2 separate regions of the Homo sapiens genome follow, and region 1 is linked to region 2. Evidence: fine-mapped expression QTL. A gene starts in region 2. The other region holds a variant in brackets. All regions are shown on one strand. Distances are from middle to middle. Region 1 overlaps SPSB4 (splA/ryanodine receptor domain and SOCS box containing 4). Region 2 holds the start of SPSB4 (splA/ryanodine receptor domain and SOCS box containing 4).

Evidence for each region.
Region 1: its variant is fine-mapped to the expression of SPSB4 in testis (GTEx, PIP 0.98).

The regions. Positions count from the first base shown.
Region 1 is chr3:141,141,212-141,152,466 of GRCh38, reverse strand. SPSB4 (splA/ryanodine receptor domain and SOCS box containing 4) reads right to left here. Exons shown (of 3, transcript NM_080862.3): 3 at 3,856-5,325. The coding sequence ends at 5,198. Among named protein-coding and RNA genes, the nearest start is that of PXYLP1, 85 kb to the left of the region's middle. The variant G/T (reference allele first, on the strand shown) is at 4,581.
Region 2 is chr3:141,045,942-141,057,196 of GRCh38, reverse strand. It overlaps SPSB4 (splA/ryanodine receptor domain and SOCS box containing 4), which reads right to left and starts at 5,850. Exons shown (of 3, transcript NM_080862.3): 1 at 5,205-5,850.

The DNA of each region.
Region 1 (11,255 bases), 95 kb before region 2:
GCTTGGGCCTCACAGGTCAGGGAGCGAGTGGGGCTGCAGTCAATTTGTCAAGAATTGTGCAGCATCAGGGCAGGTGTGGCTGGTCCTTTCTCCCCCATGCTCAGGAGCAACCAGCTCGGCATCGCTGGAAAGGGGGAAGAAGGGCTGGGAGGGACTCCCTGCCTTTGGACCTGGCCACACTGGGGACTCCCACCACTCAGTATCCCGTCGGCTGTGGGAATGCAGGGAGCCTGGGCCAGCGTTTTCTGGTCTAGGATGTGCATTCTCACAAACGTCAACCACCTCTTCAAGGAGCTGACTTAATTAAGCGCCTTATCCAGTGGTTCTCAGCCCTAGTTGAGCATTAGAACCATCTAGGGAGCTTTAAAAACTGCCATGGCCCGGCCCTACCCACAGAGGTCCTGATTTAATTGGACTGAAGAAGGGCCTGTACACTGGGCCTTTTTACAAAGTTCCTCAAGGGATTCTAATGTGCAGCCAGGCTGTCTAATCATGTCACCCAGCTCATTACAAATAGGCCCTGAGAATTCTTGTCCTTGTCCTCTAGGAGTTCACCATCTAGCCAGGAACACCTGGGTTTCTCTGGTGTCTGAGTAAAGATCCTGGGCATCTGTGAGCTCCTTGAATATTGGTGGCTGAGGCTGGAGAGACTTCAAAGTCAAGTGCAGAGCTAGCAGACTCTCCCCTCCTGAGCCCTCCCTCTGTCGTGGGTGTGTGTGTGTGCACGCGTGTGTGTGTATGTGTGTGCACGCCTACGTGTGGGTACTTACTACCCACTTATGTGTCTTATACCAATAGTCCAGAGAAGCAAACTCAGAAGCCTTAGCCCAGACGCAGGGAGTGAACGCCCTTGAGGGTGGCGGCAGTGAGAGGTCCCAGTGCTATGTTGTGGGAGGGTTGGACGTAGGGCTGGACCACAGAGCAGAGGCCTTTCCTTTACTCAGCTTTGGCCAACCTCACCATGAAGGAATGTGGGCCTGGCTTTAACACCTCTCCCCATTTTTCAAGAGAAGTCTGAAATCTGGATTTTTCTATTAAATTACTTGATTTTTCTTTGTTAGGCTCAATTTTATTAAAACACACGCGCGCGCACACACACACACACACACACACACACACACACACACACACACACACACAAGTATGATAACAAAACAAATCTGTAGGCTGGAATGAGATCCAAGCACCCAGAACTATAGGCAAGAGTGGACCAATTTTCTTGTGTTTTGGACTAAAACTGGGCATTTCCACTCCTTGTTAGGGACCTGAAGAGTAATGCTGTGTGGTTCCCTGTTCTTCTGACTTGGCAAATATGCGCCGCCTGTTCAGAGGCTGTGGCTGGGACCAAGGCCCTGGGGACAGAGACAGCTGCCCTGGCACAAATCAACTGCCATATAATGGGGTTACTTGCTACCTGCTCCCACTTCTTCTGTAACACTGTAAGGAGATGAAATGTTTGTTTCCTAGTGAAAGATAACCCACACAGGAGCCAGCTGCTAGTGCAGATGACAGAGGAGGAAAGCAAGGGAAAAAGGGTGGCTTTACTCAGAATATGGGAATGTCAAATGGGGTAGAGTGAAACAGGGTGCTCATGGGGATCATCAGATCTGTGGGGGACGGTGCCACCATATGCTCTATTCGTAGACAATTACAAAGTGACTAGCGAGACTGCTTTGGCAAGTCCCCCTGCTGGAAATGGGTCGTGGAGAGGCCAAACTTTAGAGAATGTGCCAAGCATGGGAGGGGGCTGGGCCCGGGTTATAATGGACTCTGGCGCTGGGGGGTGGTCATGAGCTCCCAGGATGTCTGCTGGGGAGAGGCCCTTGGTCGTGTGTGTGTCTGTGTGTGGGTGCACTTGCATGCCTGCAGGGAGCACAATTGCACAAGCAAGCCTGGAGGTGTGTGGGGCTCACACACACAGGGATGCTGAGCTGCGGCTTGGGCAGGAGTGGCAGCACAGGGGCTTCCTTTCCTCAGCTCAACTCATTGGGGCTCGGGAGTTCCCACTTTGAGAAGGTTGGGAGAGCCAGAAGTCCCCCCATGACCTGGAGATCCACGCCCTTTCAGGTATTTGGCTCCCTCTCATTTCTTCAGTACTCAGCATCTTCCCAGAGGGCCTCCCCCCATCACCCTCAATTACTGGGTCCCTTTTGCTCCCTGGCTCTAGCCTACCCGCTGCTCATCTCCGCCCTCTGACATCATCTGTTTCTTTGCTTGTGTGTCCTGTCTCTCCCTTAGAATGTGAGCTCTGATATGGCAGGGCCAGATTTCCTTATTCATGTTCTCATAATAGTGCTGAGTGCATGAAAAATGCCTTATAAATACCTGGGAAAAGGTGAGGGAATGAAAGGGCAAGAGATCCGTGAGCCTCAAGGCCAGGTTCTTGGCTCTGGGAGGATCCTCCCTTCCCCGCTCCTCCTTGCAGTTTCCCATGGTCATCCCAGCTGCAGGGGCACCTTCACCCACCACTCCATCTTTGCTGAGCCCATGTGTCTGGTCTGGGCTGTGTGGGAAGGAGCAGGCAGAGGCCCTGCCCGTCAAAGGTCCACAGCTCCCTGGGCAGGTGAGACCACAGGGCAAAGGAGCTCAAGTCCCTGTGCTCAGGAGAGGGTCCTGGGCCCCAGGAGTGGCATCCTCAGGTCAGGACATGAAGAGCTGAATTCTCAGAAGAAGCAGAGATGGGGGGAGTGGTTAAAGAGGGCTTCCTCAAGGAAGCCACGCTAAGCCAGATCCTTGAGAGGGTAAAGATGGGGAGGACATTGTTAGGGTGAGGGAAACCACATAAGTGAGGCTTGGAAGCCGAGATAAGACAGATGCATCCAAGCTGGAAAGCTGGTGCTGAGATGGGGACTCCATGAGCTGGGAGAGGAAGAGTTCCCAGTTACTGGCTACCTGGCTCAGCCAGCACAGTGTGCACAGAAGGAAGTGACTTCCCCAAGGTCATAGCACATAAACGATGAAGCTGGGACTCAAACCCAGGCTTCCTACACACAAAGCCTCAAAGCCTCCATGTCATGGCCACAGGAAGCTGCCTTTGGCAAACAAAATGACTGAAAGCTGCCTGATGCGGAGCCCAGCCCCGAGGTCAGAGCTGGAAACATTACCCTGGGGGCAGGTGCTGCAAGTTTGGTCTCTTGGTGGTCCTCAGGAAGCTTGTCTGCCCTTAAAATAACAAGTCTGGAGAGTGCCTCTTCCTCCAGGAAGCCTTCCCTTCATATTCTATTCTCATCCACCCCTCTTCATGAGCTCCTTCTCACTTTATTATGCTGTACTACACATCTCTGGAGATGAGATATATCAGCCTGGGCGCTGGGTCCCTGGAAATTGGCACAGCGCATGCTGTTGGCTGGTACTGCTGAATGAATGCTATTCCAGTCCTTACCCAGACCCTATCCTGACTCTAACTCCTGAACTGCTATCAGCTCTGAGCCTGGCCTTTCTTTACACTCATGCTTCAACAATTTGCACTGCTCCTTGGTGACAACATGCATTCACTACAGTCACATCCAGCCCCACCTCCAGTCCACTTGGAAACTGGTGTTCCATAGGGTTTGCCCTGCCTGACCCTAAGCCCCTTTGCAGGGCTACCCCTTGGCTCTGGCAACAGGAGGCTGAGTTGTTTCTCCACCATAAGGTCAGCTTTGCATGTACCCAGGACACAGGCACATTCTCTTGTCCAGGGCAGGCCTTTGCAAAATAGCTGGAGTTTGGGCTCAAGCAAGGACCACAAGTCAGAAGAGACAAGAAATGTCTAAAGAGGGATTCACGTGCCTGGCTTCTATCAGTCTGACGGACCAGGCAGGTTGATGGAAGAAGCTCTCTGGGTCCCTCCCCAAACAACATTTAATACGCAGCTGAAGGACTGAATGACAAACTTTATTAGAAACGCTCTTCATTCATCAGTCAAATTCACATTAAGGTGGGGGCAGTGGGGTGGGGAGGAAGAGGCAGTGCTGTCTGGGGCTCTGATATCCCACTGCTGTGATGATTTCCAGTTAAAAATGAGTCTGGGCAGAGAGTGTCTGAAACATATAAGAGGTGGCAGCAGCAGTGGCGGCGGAGGCAGCAGCAGCATTCCTGCGAGAGGACCAGGCTCGGAGCAGGTAGAGAATGTGTCTCCCATATCCACCCTTCCAGTCACAAGGCTGCCCCCATGGACCTCAAGCTGATAAATAAACAGCACATCACACACACATTTGAAACAGGAAACAAACTTGTAGAAGTCTCCTAAAGTGAAAAAATAATTTGCTCAAATAAAGCTTTGTGACAGCCATGCCGCACCCTGAATGGACGTTGCCCAGAGACCCTGACACTCCAGGAAGGCCCCCCAACCCAGGACACATCAGACTTGGGTGTCACAATGCCCCCAGTTCCCCCGTTAGCACCTTTGGACTAAGTACTGTCCTCTCCGCATTCCTCTTTTAAAATGCAAATGCTACTTAAAATAATGGTAAGGATATGCTCTTCCCTGGGGCAAACCAGTCAGACTCATCTTCCCTGAAGAGAGGTGTCTGGGCATCCAGAGAACTGTGAGTCAGTGGCTGGGAAGGGGAGCACGTGGAAAGGGGTAGGTAAACAAC[G/T]TTCAAAGAGGTAAGCCGGAAGGTGTCTCCACACTGCACTGTCCACTTGCCAGGTCTGCGGTTGGGCCTCCTGGGAACAGTCTCTCAAAGTGGCACAGAGTCCTAAAACGGTGTGACAATCCTGCCGCCCTGGCAAGGCGTATGGGCCAGGAGGGGCACGGCGTCAGGCTTTCATCATTCATTATTCAGAGGCAATTTTCCCCCTGCACTGGCTAATTTCTCCCTGGCCCTGTCTGCAACGGGGCACACAATAGAAAGTCTCCTGCCTAAATGTTTTATTCATTCTCTTGAATAAGGAAACAGGCTCTCTGATCAATACGGTGGCTGCTGTGTCCTGGTTGGTGGCAGGATTTCCAGGAGGTGCAGACTCCAGGCTCTCTGTGGCTCCGAAGGAGGTGTCTGACTTGGGAGGGCTGCCTCGAGGGCAGTAGATACTGTTGGCAAGAGACCTTTCGTTTCCAAAGTTGGTACCACATCCTGGTCTTTGAAAGAACTGAGTGTCCTGGGGAGCCAGGAGAAGGGTAGATCCTTTCCCCTATGTGCCATGGGACTGTGAATGACAGGAGGGTCGGGCCCTGCGGTGTGTGTCTGTGTCTGTGCTGCCCATCAGGCTTGGCTCACTGGTACTGCAGATAGTTTTTGAGAGACTGAGGCAGGGGCAGGGAGCTGATGTCCTGCAGGCGCTGGCGGCCCAGGGCCGAGCGGATGGATCTCCGGCACAGGTCCATCAGTGGCAGGGGCTCGGCTGCAATGAGAGGGAAGCAGTTAGAGTGTGCCCTGTGCCATCCTGGCACCTTCTCATCCCAGCCCCCACTGCATACCGCCTCCTGCCTGCTCCTCTGAGCTGGCCTTCAGGGTCAATGGCTTCTCCTTGGAGAAGATTTCTCTGGTTACATAAGCTGAAGGCCTAGAGGAGTGTTCATTAGACTGTGGAATGCAACCAGTGAGACTAAAGAGTCACAAAATCAATTCAATGGGTGGTGACCAGCCATAATTTTTTTTAAAAAAAGAGAAAATGGGAGCAATACCCATAGCAAGGATAAATATTGTTTCATGAAAGCCTTGTCTCTGGTCTCTGATGTAGGTGTTCAGCGTGTCTTTTTTTTTTTTTTTTAGATGGAGTCTTGCTCTGTCGCCCAGGCTGGAGTGCAGTGGCACAATCTGGGCTCACTGCAAGCTCCGCCTCCTGGGTTCACGCCATTCTCCTGCCTCAGCCTCCCTAGTAGCTGGGACTACAGGCACCCGCCACCAGCCCGGCTAATTTTTTGTATTTTTAGTAGAGACGGGCTTTCACTGTGTTAGCCAGGATGGTCTCGATCTCCTGACCTCGTGATCGCCCTTCTCGGCCTCCCAAAGTGCTGGGATTACAGGCGTGAGCCACCGCGCCCGGCCTGGTGTGTCTTAATGTGAAAAGGACTTCTCACTTCAGGTCATGATGGAAAATGTTTAAAAGCTGGTGGCCTTGGGTGGATCTGCAGAGGGGTTTCCTCTACAAACAGGTTAGATTCTGAGAGGCTGTCTGAAATGCCTGTGAACCCTGAAACTTCCCCTATAGCTTTCCTTGATGGTCAGCAGCGGGTTACATTTTCTTCCAGCACCTAGTTCTGGAAAAATTTGTAAGTTAAAATCCATAAATAATGGAACCACTGGACATAGGACCAGTTAAACCAACTTTAACTAGGTTTATTGCAGACCCCCTTATTAAGCTCTTATTCTGGTCCAGGCCCTTTGATTAGCCCTGGGGATACAGGGATAACTAAGCTAGCACCAGAGGCAGCTCTGGAAGAGGGTGGGGGCAGGTAGGGGGGTGGTGGAGGCTCATGATCTGGGATTTTAAATAGGTGAATCATTTTAATAGAGTGTAATATATGCAATAATTCTTAAATATACAGGTACAGAAACTGGGAATTTCTTATATAGAAGAGCTGTTTGAAAGCTTCACAGAGAGGACACATAATGGGGTTTTGAAGAGTGAATAGGAGGGTTAAAGGCACATAAGGGTGGGGAGGGTATCCTAGGCAGAGAGAACAGGCAAAGGCAAAGGAGGAATAAAACAGGACAGCCTGGAGGTTTGTGGGGAGAGGAACAGTGCTGATCAGTTAGCATCAGCTGGAAGGAAGATGATGATGGTGGTCACATGGCATCTGGTATGGTTTGTACAGGCCTGGTTTCCCCAGTCCTCCAGGAGTATGCTGGAAGCCTGAACCTGCATCTTAATACTTTTTTGGTAATAGAATAAATGATATTTCATAAACATCCTATAATGTACTAAGATACAACAAAACTGTTGAGTGGTAAATACTAACACAAGAGTTGTGATAGGAATAGTACCACAGAGAAAGGCCCTCTACAGATCCACCCGAGGCCTGCAGCTTTCAAACATTTTTTTATCACAACCTGCAGTGAAGTACTTTTTACATGGGAATGTAGTCAAGAGTCGAGAATATGTTTTATAGGAATTTTTATTTACCTGAGCTGCAGAGTTAATAAGGGGAGCCATTAAAATTAAAGTGGGGCTTGGGGAGCATGCTTTGGAAGCTGTGCACAAGAGTACATCCAGCTCTCCTTCACTTGAGGCCAGATCCCAAGGCTATCTGCAGGGAGCACTAGTGACTCCAAACACTCACCTCTGTATCCTCTTTTTTATCTTTTTTTTTTTTTAATTTTTTGTATTCTCTTTTTAAAATAATTATTATTTTTATTGTATAATTCCACTTGTACAAAATCTTCAGAATAGTCAAATATGGAGACAGTATATCGATCCTCATACAAAATGAGGCTGGACAGGGGAAGCCCAGCCATGCCCTATTTTCCAGGTGCAGAAGGCTGATCGCTCACCTCCCAGTCACCCAATCACTGTGCCTAGGCCAACATTTGACAACCCTCCCTCAGGGTGTCCCCATCTCTCCTCCAGCAACACCCTTGTACCCAGTTCTCCCACTCCCTGTCCCCCATCTGGCATCAGGAAAACTGAGCTGTTAAAATTTCAAAATCATTGGCAGACCTTAAGAGATTTTCTTATCACTTTAATGCCCTAGGCACATAATAGGTATTCAACGCCCAAAATGCTTAGCCTTGTCAGCAAACCCAACTCCCTGTGTGTTGCCTGCCCAATTAGGGGCTGAAGAGGACAGAATGTCTTTTATCTTCATCTCTCTGCAGTCACTGAAATCAATCTAGATTCTAAATTCCAAAGGAAGAAGGAAAAGGAGTTCAGAGTACGTTGCTAGCTCTAAATGTGAAATATAAATCATCTCTCCGAACTTCTGAGGGGAGAGTAAACTGACAATTCCAAAGTGCACAGAGAAAGTCCTTGAGTTCCTGCCCCCACTGTGGAACTTTAAGAGCTCGGAGAGTGCCCAACGTTGGCTGCGCCCATTCTCTTGGCTCTTCTTTCTCACCTCTCCTGGCTTTGAGGCTTTTCTTAGAACTACCAAATGTCAAAGCTTGGAAATAATCACCTGGATAGGAAAGGAAGCACAGAATTTTCCAGTATGGGAGCTATTCTTAGAACTATTTTTTGACTAAAGATAAAACCGAAAAAGAATCATTGTTCATAAAGGTGAATATCCAAATGGCCAATAAACATATGTAAAAGTGCTCAACTTCATGAATCATCAGGAAAGTAGAAATTAATACCATAATATGACTCTGCCACATACCAACAAGGAAGACTAAAATGATGATATCCTCTTTCCTGTGATGCCTGGGACTGAAGTCTGGAGTGATGAAGACGTCTGATAGGATCTGCTTAGAAGTTGTCAAATATTTAGCCAAAATTCAGAGTTAACTGCATAGCTTGTCCTCCAATCCAGGTTTGCTCAAACAGCTGTGGTGATTCAAAGATTGTCTATGCAGACTCAACTGATGAACAAATAAATGTCCCTGACACTGTTAGGAGCTATTAATTTGGTCTTTTCTAAAAATAGGCTTTTCTTCTACTTTTTATTGTCTACTTACATTTATATATTAATGTAAAAATGAGGACTCATATGTTTGTCTACTTCTAAATTTTTATTCATTCTGTAACTCTCAGATGTAATTAAAATAACATAATGAAAAGAAGGAGCAGGCCACTGCAAATTCTGTGAAACAGGAAAAAAACTCTGGTGCTCTCTTGAAAGCACCACCTCCTGGCTGGAGGCCAACCAACTCAGGACATTACAGCAACTCATGACAGAACAACCTTGCTCCAAGGAAGGAGAAACAGGAGTTAATTCCACTGCATGCCAAATCCTGGCTAGCAAGTGGGTCCCAAGTCTGTCCATATTACAATCTCACTGCTAGCATAACCAGCATTAGAGAAAGCCAGCACACTAAACATCTATAACCAAAGACTCTCACAGAGTCTACTTCACTCCCCTGCCACCTCCACCAGAGCAGGTGCTGGTATCCACAGCTGGGAGACCTGAAGACAGATCCCATCATAGGACTCTTTGCAAACATCTCCCAGCACCAGCCAAGAGCCTGGTAGCCCCACTGCATGGTTAGACCCAGAAGAGCAATACCAATCTTTGCAGTCCAGCTCTCAGGTAGCCCCGTCCCTAGGGGAAGCAGGAGAGTACCACATCAAGGTGAATAAAAATCCACCAACCAAGTATCTGCTGTCTTCAAGAGACTCACCTAGCACACAAGAACTCACATAAACTTAAGGTAAAGTGGGGAAAGAGATATTCCATGCAAATGGAAACCAGAAGCAAGCAAGAGTAGCGATTCTTATAACAGACAAAACAGGTTTTAAAGCAACAACAGTTTAAAAAGACAAAGAGGGGGCCAAGCGTGGTGGCTCAGACCTGTAATCCCAGCACTTTGGGTGGCCAAGGTGGGCAGATCACAAAGTCAGGAGATGGAGACCATCCTGGCTAACACGGTGAAACCCCATTTCTACTAAAAACACAAAAAATTAGCTGGGCGTGGTGGCGGGTGCCTGTAGTCCCAGCTACTCGGGAGGCTGAGGCAGGAGAATGGTGTGAACCTGGGAGGTGGAACTTGCAATGAGCTGAGATCATGCCACTGCACTCCAGGCTGGGTGACAGAGCGAGACTCTGTCTCAAAAAAAAAAAAAAAAAAAAAAAAAAAAAAAGACAAAGAGGGACATTATATCATAATGAAAGGATCACTCCAAGAGGAAAATATCACAATCCTAAATATATATGTACCTAACACAGGAGCTCCCAAATTTATAAAACAATTATGACTAGACATAAGAAATGAGATAGACAACTACACAATAGTGGGGGACTTCAATGCTCCACTGACAGCACTAGACAGTTCACCAAGACAGAGTCAACAAAGAAACAATGGAGTTCAACTATACCCTAGAACAAATGGACTTAACAAATATTTACAGAACATTCTACCCAACAACTGCAGAATATACATTCTTTTCTTCAGCCCATGGGACATTCTCCAAGATAGACAACATGATAGGCCACAAAACAAGTCTCAATAAATTTAAGAAAATCAAACTTATATCAAGTATCCTCTCAGACCACAGTGGAATAAAATTGGAAATTAACTCCAAAAGGAACCATCAAAACTATACAAATACATGGAAATTAAATAATCTGCTCTTGAATGATCTTTGGGTCAACAATGAAATCAAGATGGAAATGTAAAATTTCTTTGAATGGAACGATAATAGTGACACAACTTACAAAAACCTCTTGGATACAGTCAAAGCAGTGCTAAGAGGAAAGTTCATAGCATTAAATGCTTACATCAAAAAGCTGAAAGAACATGAATAGACAATCTAAGGTCATACCTCAAGGAACTAGAGAAACAAGAACAAACTAAACTCAAACTCAGCAGAAGAAAATAAATAACAAAGATCACAGCAGAACTAAATGAAATTGAAACAAAAAATACAAAAGATAAATAAAACAAAAAGCCAGTTCTTTGAAAAGATAAACAAAACTGATAGACCATTAATGAGAATAACCAAGAAAAGACAAGAGAAGATCCAAATAAGTTCAATTAGAAACAAAACAGGAGATATTACAACTGATACCACAGAAATACAAAAGTGCATTCATGGGGATTATTAACACCTTTACACATACAAACTAGAAAATTTAAAGGAGATAGAAAAATTTCTTGAAATATACAACCTTCCTAGATTAAATCAGGAAGAAATAGAAATTCCGAACAGACCAGTAACAAATAGTGAAATTGAAATGGTAATAAAAAATTGCCACCAAAAAAAAAGTCAAGGACCAGATGGATTCACAGCTGAATTCTATCAGGTATTCAAAGAAGAATTGGTACTAATCTTTCCGAAACTATTCCACTGCTGTTGCTGCTGCCTATAGACTTTCAGATCATCTCCCTCTTCTGTGTCAGGGAAAGCTCCTGGCTGGTGCAGACACAACCCAATAGCAGTTTAATATGTAATATTGAAAAACTGGGGGGGTGGAGCCAAGATGGCCGAATAGGAACAGCTCCAGTCTACAACTCCCAGCGTGAGCGATGCAGAAGATGGGTGATTTCTGCATTTCCAACTGAGGTACCGGGTTCATCTCACAGGGGAGTGCCGGACAGTGGGTACAGGACAGTGGGTTCAGGGCACCATGCATGAGCCAAAGCAGGGCGAGGCGTCGCCTCACCTGGGAAGTGCAAGGGGTCAGGGAATTCCTTTTCCTAGTCAAAGAAAGGGGTGACAGGTGGCACCTGGAA
Region 2 (11,255 bases):
TTTTCCCTGCTATACACACATGGAGCTCAGGCTACAACTGGCTGGGCAAGCCCTTTCTTCCCCAAGAGCTCACAAAGAGAGCCATCTGTCCAGTTCCAGGTGGAATCATCTCACGCCTGTTTTCCTGGAGCGAGAATCAATGAGGCTTCCCTGAGCCTCTCCTCCTCCTGGGGTTTCCATGGGAATCCTCCCACGCGTGACTGAGCCAGGGGCCCCCAAGGTGCAAGCTGGGCTGTCAGCCAGCAAGGAGAGCAGCAAATGGGATGAAGGAGGTTTGCTAGGCTGTGACCAGGGCAGCAAGCTCTGCAAGGTCATTTGAAAGAGACATACCACTGAGACAGCAAGGCCACGTGCAGTCCGGGCCAGCCCGGTCACCACAGCTGCCCCTGAGCCCAGAGGCCTGCCCCAGGCACATGTGGAGGTTGTTTGCAGGGCAGCTGGATTCCCTGAGGCCCAGCATGTCTGGGCTGGGTCAAAGCATGAAGGGAGAAGATGGGAAGGGTACCATTTAATGAAGCCCTCTGGGGAAAACGATGATGAAAACATGATAAGGTTTGCGTCCAATCCCTCATTTACCTCCCAAGATGAACCTTCTCCACTTGGTATAACTGGTTGTCTGGAAACAGAATGCCTAAAAGAAAAGCAGAACTATTCATGCCTCTGGCTTGAGCCAGGTCATAATAGGGACCTGCTGGGATTTCTGAAGATCCCTCTGTTAAGCCTACAGTATCTCTGGGGGCATTTTTGAGATACTAAGGAGGAAAGGAGAGAGGATGAGAGGAAGAGAGGAGAAAGGGAGCAGGATCGGGGAGGGAGCTGCTCCAGCCCCAGGAATCTGTACAACTTGCACATTTCATAGAATGCAGATAACAGGTAGATGTCTCCTGAAGGTAGATAACAGGTAGAATGTCTCTGTGGCCAGTAAACCGGGCCAAGGCCCACTCACTTCTGGAGAAAGCAGAGCTCCAGTTCACCATACATGACATTTCACAACATTAAAGGTCAGATGGATGACTTTGGCACTGCTCCAGCGTCTCCCACCACACATACCAGCACATTGAAGTGTAGAGCTTACCACAGCAGCTTTCCTGCCTCCTCCTGGCTCCAATGTCTTCCTGCCTACCCCATCAATGGGGCACCCCCAAGTCCATTGCTTCAACTTCAGTTTCCGCTTTTCACTCTCTCTCTCCATGCATCTTCTCTTATGACCTGCATCTCCAGCCCCGTGCAGACACTCTCAAGCCGGGTCTCCAGTGCTGCCTTCTCTCCTCAGCACAAGACCTACCTACTAGAAGCCCCTGGTCAGCCCTGCCTGGGTGTTGTTTCAAATGACCTTGTAAGGCCAGCTGACCTCTTTCCATCATAAGCCTCCTACCATGGGCACACCCACACTCTCAGCCCTGCGGGACATCTGTGGTCCATGTGCACCTCGGAATCTGCAGGTCCTAGGCTGAGCCTGGCCTCTTCCCTCTCTCACATGCCAGGTTCCTCTGCATGTCACTGTTCCTGCCATGGATCCCGTCTCTTGGTCCCCACCACTCAACCCCGTCAGCTTTCCCCTAGTTCAGAACTTGCCTGGATTACTCCACTGGTCTCTTAGCAGGCTTCCCTGACTCCACTGTTTGCCCGCCAACCCACTCTCCATGCTGCCAACAGGTAAGTTGGACCAAGACACCCACCAATCTCTTCATTCAACCCTCCAGGCAGCTTCTCCAGAGAGAAGCTGCACCTCTTTGCTTGGCACCCAGGGGCCCTCCAGGCTGCTCTTATTTCTTCCACACTGTCTGTCATCACGGCCCACCTCAGACCAGTCATGCCAGACTCTCCTCGTCAGCACATCCTGGGACTCTTCCCATCTTCTCTGACCTGGCTGACATTCTCTCACTCCCCTGCCCCTTCTAGCAGAAGCAGAACTGGGCACCCCTCCGTGGCAGCCCCTCAGCCCACTACATCCTCTTCCCTCCGCCCCATTATGTCCTCTTGCCTACGTCCCACTGCACCCTCTGCCCTCCAACCCACTTTGTCTTCATCTTAGCTGTTGATTCCTGCTGCTATCTCTTGCACCACATCTGCATTTCTTAATGGAGCCAGTGCCCAACCAGCCTTTATCTCCAATACTCGTACACAGCCTTGTACCTGTTACCTCTGGCTGCATTAAGACGTGCTTGTCAGACTGAAGAAGGACTAGCCACTCTATACCTCCTGCATGGTTTGCATTTTTTTTTTTTTTTTGAGACGGAGTCTCGCTCTGTTGCCCAGGCTGGAGTGCAGTGGTGCCATCTCGGCTCACTGCAAGCTCTGCGTCCCAGGTTCATGCCATTCTCCTGCCTCAGCCTCCCCAGCAGCTGGGACTACAGGCGCAAGCCGCCACGCCGGGCTAATTTTTTGTATTTTTAGTAGAGACGGGGTTTCACTGTGTTAGCCAGGATAGTCTCGATCTCCTGACCTTGCGATCCCCCCGCCTCGGCCTCCCAAAGTGCTGGGATTACGGGCATGAACCACCACACGTATACATTTTAAATGGAGTAAGTTCTGAACTCAATGTGTGAAGCAAAAATCACATGCAATCAACACTGCTTAGGAAAGTTCTTCTAAAGTTCCACACAAAGTTCATGATAACTGGTTTGAGGTATACCACCTCTTTCCCAAAGGGCACACCACCCACAACTGTTTTTCCTATAGCCTCAAAACAAATCCCTATTTCTTGAACTGATCAGCAGCAAATAAATTAGTTGGCTTATGTAGGAACCATGTTTTATTAAAAACGTGTTGCTGGTTTAAAAATTTTTTATAGTTGATCTTTTCTTACCACAGATGGTCATGTTCACATAAATCAAGAGTACATACTATGTACTTATATAGTACATATATAGGCAGAGACTTCTGGTGACCTCCATCTACGGCCTGCCACTCCCCTGATTTTCATGCCCAAGACCCTTCACTCCTGTATCAACAGAGAAAAAACCTTTCTAGAGCATGGATGTGTGACAACAGGTCGGGCAGCTCAGGGGAAATTAAGTAACTCCTGTATGGTGAGTTGTACTAGGTCTTTCCCCAAAAGGGCAAGGAATTCTGCACTGGCCACTGTGGCTTGGCCACTTTCTGGGATAGAAATGAAGCCCTTCCAAGGACAGTTCTACGTAAATGATGAGGAAGTTTCAGTTGTATGAAAAACTAGGAGGAAAAGTATTCTAGGCAGGGGAACAGCAAGTGAATGAGCCTTTGGAGTGTTGGAGTAAAAGGAAGAAGGCTAGGAGGGTGGGTAGTGGGGGAGAGGAAAATGGTGAGGAAGAGGTGGAGAAGGGCAGTACCAGACCTGAGGACCCCTGGGATCATCTAGATTTTACTCTGTGGCAGCCTTAAGGAGGTCCTGAGCTAGGGAGAAATGTGATCTACATTTTTAAAAGATGCTTCTGATAAATGGTTATGACTACTTGCTAATTTGATACATTAAAAAAAAATCTTGTAATTTTAACTTGCATTTTTCGTATTGAGGTAAGGTATCTTGTCATATGTTTTGGTATCATTTCTATTTTATTTCGCATGTATGAATCGTGTCTTTGCCCATTTGATCTTTTGTTTGTTGACCTCAGGAATCTCTTACATATTTAAAGAGATGAGCCTGTTGTGATAGGAGTGGTATATGTCATATGTGACAGTTTGTCATATATCTTTTGACTGTTTCTGGTGATTTCTTTTCCTTGCAGATTTTATTTTTATATCATTAAATATATCTTTAAAATAAACGAGAAATACAAACTGGAGAGATATTTGGGTAGAAGGTCCAGTAAGTTGAATTTTGTTTGTGATTTGCCAAAGGTGGCTTAAATTCTTTTCATTACCATTTTTAAAAATGGAATAAATTAGAGGGTATGTGTCTCAGAGGAATATGCCCTTGGGTAAAGGATGTTTATATCATGCTTTTACACATTTTACGTCTTCCAGACTTAAGCTCATCAAATTGCGCGGGTGGGGGGCAGGGGGCCAGAAAGGGGGTGGGAGGATAGAGGGCTCAGAGTCTGAGAGAAAGGAACTCCTATCTTCATCCCCCAACCCCCCAAGGAGGAGAGTGGGGCGCAGAAGAGGAAACCAAGCGGGGGGAGGTTAGAGAACTTGCCCAAGGTCACACCGCGAGCTGGTGGTGGAGACAGATTCGAACCCAAGCCTGACTCCAGAACTGAGAACTCTCCACCTTCTCGCGACAGCGGTACAGAAAAGTGCCCTCCTCTCCTTCCTGCCGGCAGCCGTCTGCGCTTGGCCATGGGCCGGCGGGAGCAGCCACTCCCCCGGTTCTCCCGCCAGTCAGAGGTCGGGGGCTCGGCGTCCCCTTCTGGCTTGGAGCCCCTGGCGCGTACAGAGCGACCAGGGCGGACACATTTGCCGCGCTCAAGTCTCTGACCCCCTCCCTCCTTCCCAGAGCCCTGCGCCTAGGGTTTCCTGAGCTCCCAACCCCCTCCCTTCCCGAGCATAGACAAGTTTGTATTCAAGCAAGGCCAGGACTGGTCCCTGAGTCGCTCTCGGGCCAGGCGACCAGCCTCACTGCCCCAGAGTCAGGAATAAACGGTAACAACAGCCACCGGTGCCTATTGCGTGACCCGTGCTTTACTTCCACCTCTCCGAATACCCCGGACGAACAGACCCCCAGGAATTATTGTCCCCATTACACGGACGACGGAACTGCTGCAGCTTCGGAAAGTTGGATAACAAGCTTGGGCTCGCAAAGCTAATAATAATACTAGCTAACATATGATTGAGTGTTTCCTGTGTGCCCAGCACATGTCTACCTACGAACACCATCCCATAGATCTTTCCAATACCCCTATAAAATGTGCACAATTATCATTCCCATCCTACGGATGAGGAAACAGGTTTGGCGCCCTGTCCAAGGTCACTCAGCCAGTGAGTGACGGATCCTGGATCCAAACCAAAGCGGGTGAATCGGATGGCAGTTTTTTGTGCGTTGTCCGCTACGCAGAGAAGCAAAGGGCTTAGAACCCATGATACCAAAGGCCGGGCCCCAAACGCCCCAGGGCTGCGCGCAAATCAACCATCTCGAACTGCCACAACCTGCAGAGAGGAATTCTCAGGGACTGGGACGTCAGGAGCGCCAGCTGTGTCGAGTGCTGGCCCGCACAAAGTCCGTGCAGCCGGATCTCGGCTCCCGGCCCCCGCGCGCCCCTCACCAGGAGCTGGAGAGTACTTACCATAAAAGAGAGGGCAAGCGCCTGTTCGGGAAGAATCCCCAGCGCTGGCAGGTCCTGGACTCCCTGGAGAGGGGTCTGCTGCCGCCGCCGCCCACTCAGGGGCGCCCGAGTGACCCGCAAATGCCGGCTCTCTCCGCACGGCCAGGGGCGCGTCCTCACGGCTGATGCCCGGCAGCAGCGCCCCCTCTGCGCTGCAGGATGGCCTGGAGTTAGGAGCGTTCTTGGCGAAGTTGGCGCTCAGGCGCCGGGGGTCGGGCCTGGAGTGGGGAAGCGCCTTACTGAAGCGATCCTGGGGGCGCTCCAAGGCCCGCGCTCTAGCCGCTTGGAAGCTTGGCGCCTGACCCGGAGGGCGACGAGTCCCGCGCTCAGGGCGCACGGGCCGCGCCTCGGCCGCTGGCCCCCGGCGCGCCGGGCGTCTTCCCCAGCGCCCTGAGCGCACGCAGCGGTAGCAGCAGCTGGGGCCCGGGCCCGGGATGTGGTGTGTTCATCGCCCTCCCCTGGGGCTGGGTGCTTTTGTGCGCGGGGCGCGCCGGCCGCCACGGCCAGCTCTGGATGCTGCAGCCGCCGCCGCCTCCCCCTCCTCCGCCGCCGCCGCCCGCTCCCCGCCTTCCCGGCCGGCCCGGAGGCTGCAGCTGAAAGCCGATCTGGCTGAGCTCATCCCTGAAGGCCACTAATCCAATAGCCGCGGAAGGCGCGGTCGCCGGGAACGCCCCTTCCCCCACCATCCCGCGCCCCGGCCGTCCCAGCTCGGGCCGCTGCCGGCGCCGCCACCTTCTCGAGGCCACCAGCTGGCGGGAGAGGGAAGTGGAGCCCGCGCCCGCGCCCCTGTGCCAAGGCGGCGGCGCGGTCGCCATTCACTCACCCGCCCACTCGCCCGCTCACTCCCTAGCTCTCGCATTCATTCCTGCGCGCGGGTCCTCCCGGATTCATTCAAGCGCTCCTGGAGCGCCAGGGTGGGTGCCCCTGACGGGGAGGAGACACCCAGTCACTAGGCAGCTTTGGTGCCTTTACTCAACGCACGTGGGAAATAGCAGCCAGGAGGAAAAAAGGGTGGTTTATTATCCCCCTTCCTCAGACACACACGTCCACACTTTATTTTTGAGATCAGGCTCCAACTCATCTCTTAAAGTCCAATTTCATACCGCACCTGCTCAAGGAGCGTTCCCCGCCCACCCGAGGCGCAGGAAGTCGGTCTCTTTGCTCTACCAGCGCTGATGGTGGGCCGCCTCATTGGGAGCCTGAACTGAGCGATGGGGTAAAGGGCGTGGCCAAAACAGAAGCCTCGAGGGTGCTTCTGGTATCTGCGCTTCCTTGGGGAAATTGAAAGTTCTTGGTTTGGTGGCCCTCGTCTGTGCTCCCAGAATTGACTTTAGGTCCATTACGCAGTCATTTGCTAACCCAATCCCTCTCTGTGCCAGGTACCAGGCAGAGTCTAGATGCAGACAGAGTCTAGATGCAGACAGAGTCTAGATGCAGAGTGCGCATTTCATCAAGGACATGGAAAACAAGTAAAGACAATCCAACTCTATGAAGGAAACGTTTTGAGAGAGGTTCTGGGGCGAATTTGTCAGACTGGAAAGGGCAACTGGGAATGTTTCCTAGTAAATGTGTCTACATGAATTAGCTCCTGGAGGCAGGGGTACAACATGGTCACCTGGAGAGCTACCTATCACAGCACAGAGCCTGTGCTATGAGCAGAGGGGGTATGACGGAACTGGAGGGATGGACGGTGTCTAGGGTCTTGGGTGGAGACTGTATCAAGAGCTTGACCTTCCCCATCACTTTGGGAGGCCTTTAACCAGGGTAGTGACCTTGTCGGATTTGCATTCCAGAAAGACCTCTTAGCAGCCAACTGGATGGATGGATGGAGGAAACCAGGTTGGCAGCTACTGTAATAGTCTAAGCATAAGATGATGCTTTATGAACCAAGATAACCATGATGAGGTGACAAAAGTGTGTATTGACACGTATTTATTGTACTTATTCTAACGTTTCATCACTGTCTGTTTGCATGTCTGCCCCTCCTAAAACTGTGAGCCCCCCCTGGAGGGCAAGTATAGGTACCTCACACATCTCTGGATGCCCTGCACCAGCATAGGATAGATGCTGAGGACAGTGAATGTGATTTGAACTGCCCTAAGTGGCAGTGCTGACCTACATTCACACTTGGTGTCTTTCCTTCCTACCTCCTATTGACAAGCTCCTGGAGCACCTCTACTGTGAGCTACTGTGGGGGTTATGGATGTGGTTGGGGAGCAAGAAAAGAAAATTTGTGGAAAGAAGCTCAGAAGCAAAGGAAAGTTTAAAGCAGACGTTCATGCTGATGGTTTCTCTACCCATCTGGCTGACAGGCTGGGTGTGTGTGTGGAGGATGCCCGTTGCTTCCACTCGGTGCTGGGAAGCATCACAGTAGCTTCAAGGATAAGGGAGGGAGGGAGCAGTGGCCACAATTTGAGAAAACAACTCCCCCCCTCCCTTGGGGGCTCCAGTTAGGTTCACCACACTGGCCTTTCCCAATGAGATTATGCCCCAGGCACAAAGGAGTGGGCCAAAACAGGGCCCCCTTGTGTCCCTGTAGACCCCCAAATCCTCCAGCCTCTGGATAACAAGGGAAACAACTTGCCATTTGGGGAGAAGCCAGGATAGCCTGGCTACTAAAATTCTTTAGATTGAGATCAGCAGCTTCTAAATGGCCCCCAGTGATCCCTGACTCCTGGTATATACTCCCTTGTGTAAACCCTTTCCCTTAAAGTGTGGGCTAGACTTACTGACTTGCTTCTCACTAACAGAATACAGCAGAGGTAATGGGATGTTCCTTCCAATATTAGGTTATAAGAAGACTGTGGCTTCTGTTTTGAGCATACACTCTTGCTCTCTTTTGGGATCACCTCTCTGGAGAAGCCAGCTGCTATATCCTGCAGTGGCACTGTGGAGAGAGGCCCATATGGTGAGTGACTGAGACCTACCGATAACCACATGAGTGAACTTGGGAGCAGATCTCTGCCCCGCCGAGCTGAGCCCTTCATAGGACAATACAGCCCTGTGTGATGCCTTGACTGCAACCTCATGAGAGATCGTGAATCACCGAAACCAACTACCTGTGCTTAGATTTCTGATGCATGGAAACTGTAAGATAATAAATGTTTGTTGTTTTAATCAGCTAAATGTTGGAGTAATTTGTTATTCAGCAGTAGGTAACTAATGCAAGATGTTCTTAACTGTCCAAGAGTGAGTCTAAAAATGCAACCGTGAAAAACTAGCCACAGTATTGCTCTAAAGAATGTACAGTATTGCATGGGCATAGTCAGACAGCTCTGGGCTTAAATCTCAATTCCAAGCCTTTGGGTCCTAGCTTTCTCATTTCTAAACAGGAACAGAAGAATGTCCCTAGAGTACAGTTGTGGGTTGTAGCTTGTCGTGTAGTCGGTGCACAATAAATCTTTTTCCTTCTACTTCTCAGGAGTAGACCAAGATCTGTAGCATTCGTGGGATTCTTGGACTAAGGCAAAGTAATGCCTGGGGCAGAAGGTCCAGTAGGGAGCTGCTGCAGTCAGGGGTCCAGAACCCCTTGGATAAAGCAAAGCTCTGAACCTCACTCCTCCTGCCTTTGCTCCCACAAGGAATGGTATTCGGTCTACTTCCCAGTTTTTAGCTATTGAAATCTCGGACTCCTTCTCTGTCTTGTAAAAGTATTAACCATGGTTTTACAGAAGTTGGAGGAAAAACTTTCAGTTCTGAGAAATTTTGGAGCTTGCAGCTTGCTCCAAGGAGGTCTGTGGCAAGACAGAACTGTGTTGTGTGAGGTTTGAATGTCCTCTGCCCACCCCTCAGGAGCAACCCTGTTTGAGCCCAGCCTGCCATGCAGCATTGTCCATCAGGTGCTCAGCTCTCAAATTCTGTTCCTCTTTACAGCCCAAGCATCACCATCTCTTTCCCTAGCAGTTATAGCGGCCCCCTCACCTCTACTGCTGGGCTCTCTTCATGAAGGAAAAATCACCCTTGCCACTCCCTTCAGAGGTACCCCATGGTCCACAGCATAATTTTCATGCTTTTTCATGGAATCTGGCTCCCTGCCTACTCATCTAGTTTCACCTCCTCTCATTTGCGCTCTGGGCCAGGCCACACTGGGGCCCCCTGAGCTCCTCCATGCTCTTTCTCCCTGCCACAGGCCATTGTAGGTGCTTACCTTTCTTCCTGGTACAGACTTTCCAGGTAACTCTAATTCATACTTCGTCTCTCTGCTTGTATACATGTCATCTCCTCCAGGAAGCCTTCCCAACACTGCAGGCACAGCACGGTGCCCTCCTATGTGCATCTCAAGCCTGTGCTTGCCTCTCTCACAACCCCAAGTCCCACTGTTGTGACCTCCTTTCTTGTCCCTCACCCCAAGATATGAGCACTTCAAGGGCAAGGCTGTCTTTTTCATTTTTATAGCTGTTACACCCCCAACCACATTTTCTTCTTGCTAATTTCTCAAAGCAGAAAGCTCCACAGTCTTCCCAAATAGCCCAGGCTGGATTAAGGGCCCCTTCTGTAAGCCCTACCACACCTTGTTGCTTTACATCTGTCATAGCACCTTGAAAACATTTGGGGAATTGTCAGACTCTTGCATCACATGGTGACTCTGTAGGGCAGGACTGTGTCTGATTCATCCCAGTGTTCCTAGTTCTCAGCCTGGGGCATGGTATACAGTCGACAAACAGTAGATGTTTGTGGAATAATTAAAGGTAAAGGAAAAGAAAAGAAAGACAGGCAGGCAGGGAGGAAGGGAGGGAGGAAAAAAGGAAGAAAGGCCAGCTCCATTGGCTTCTCTCTCTCCCTCTCTATTTCTGTCTTCCATTTAGGTATTGAATGATCAGAATTGAATTAATCATAATCCTTGATCATGACACATTGTCAACATTAGCCCAAGTATGGGACTTATTAATTCATGTATTTATTCATAACATGATGAACACACATGAACCCACTATTGAACCCAAGACCTAGAACATTTCCAACACCTACATCTTCCCGGGTGCTCCTTTCCTAGCCCATCTTTTTGCCTCTCCTTCACACAAAAACACTATCCTGATTTTTTTTTTAGATGGAGTCTTGCTCTGTCACCCAGGCTGGAGTGCAGTGGCACCATCTCAGCTCACTGCAACCTCCACCTCCCAGGTTCAAGCAATTCTCTGCCTCAGTCTCCCGAGTAGCTGGAATTACAGGCTCCTGCCACCATGCCTGGCTAATTTTTTGTGTTTTTAGTAGAGATGGAGTTTCACCATTTTGGCCAGGCTGGTCTTGAACTCCTGACCTCGTGATCCACCCATCTCAGCCTCCCAAAGTGCTGGGATTACAGGCGTGAGCCACTGCGCCTGGCCACTATCCTGATTTTTATGGTTTATCATTTCCTTGGATTTAAAAATACATGTAACATGAATTTATTTAGCTTTACTTGCTTTTTGAACTTTATTAAAAGGTACTATACTATATATCATTTTCTAGGAATTGCCATTGGACTTAACAAGATTCATCCATGTTGATGCATGTAACAGTATCTCATTCATTTTCATGGCTCTATAATAGTTCATTGGGTGAACATACACAATTAATTTTTCCATTCTCCTTCCATAGGTGTTCAGATTGGTTTTATTTTGGAGCTACTATAAACAGTGCTGCTATGAACATTTCTGAACAGGTTCCCTGGTGGATCTGTGCTAATGTTTTCTTGGGTCTTTTCATAGGAGTGGAATCATTGTGTCTTGTCCTCTTCATCACTGTCTAGCATGGGTCAGCCTATTCAAATGCAGGGCTAAAAATTTTTCAATCTAGCCACAAAACAGGGAGGGCTGTAGGTACCAAAAGTAATTTGCATCATTCACAGGAGACAAAAATGTTTGACCAAGGGATACCCAGCTCCATTTCCTTGGAATGATTTGCATGCAAGTAAGTGATTTGCATACTGACAGGGCTTCAGATTCCAGGCCATTCCATTCCCTGCCCCATTCCCCTTTACTTCTTAGATAATTAGACCTAGTGGGGCCCAGAAGTCTCAGCCTCCCAGGAGGA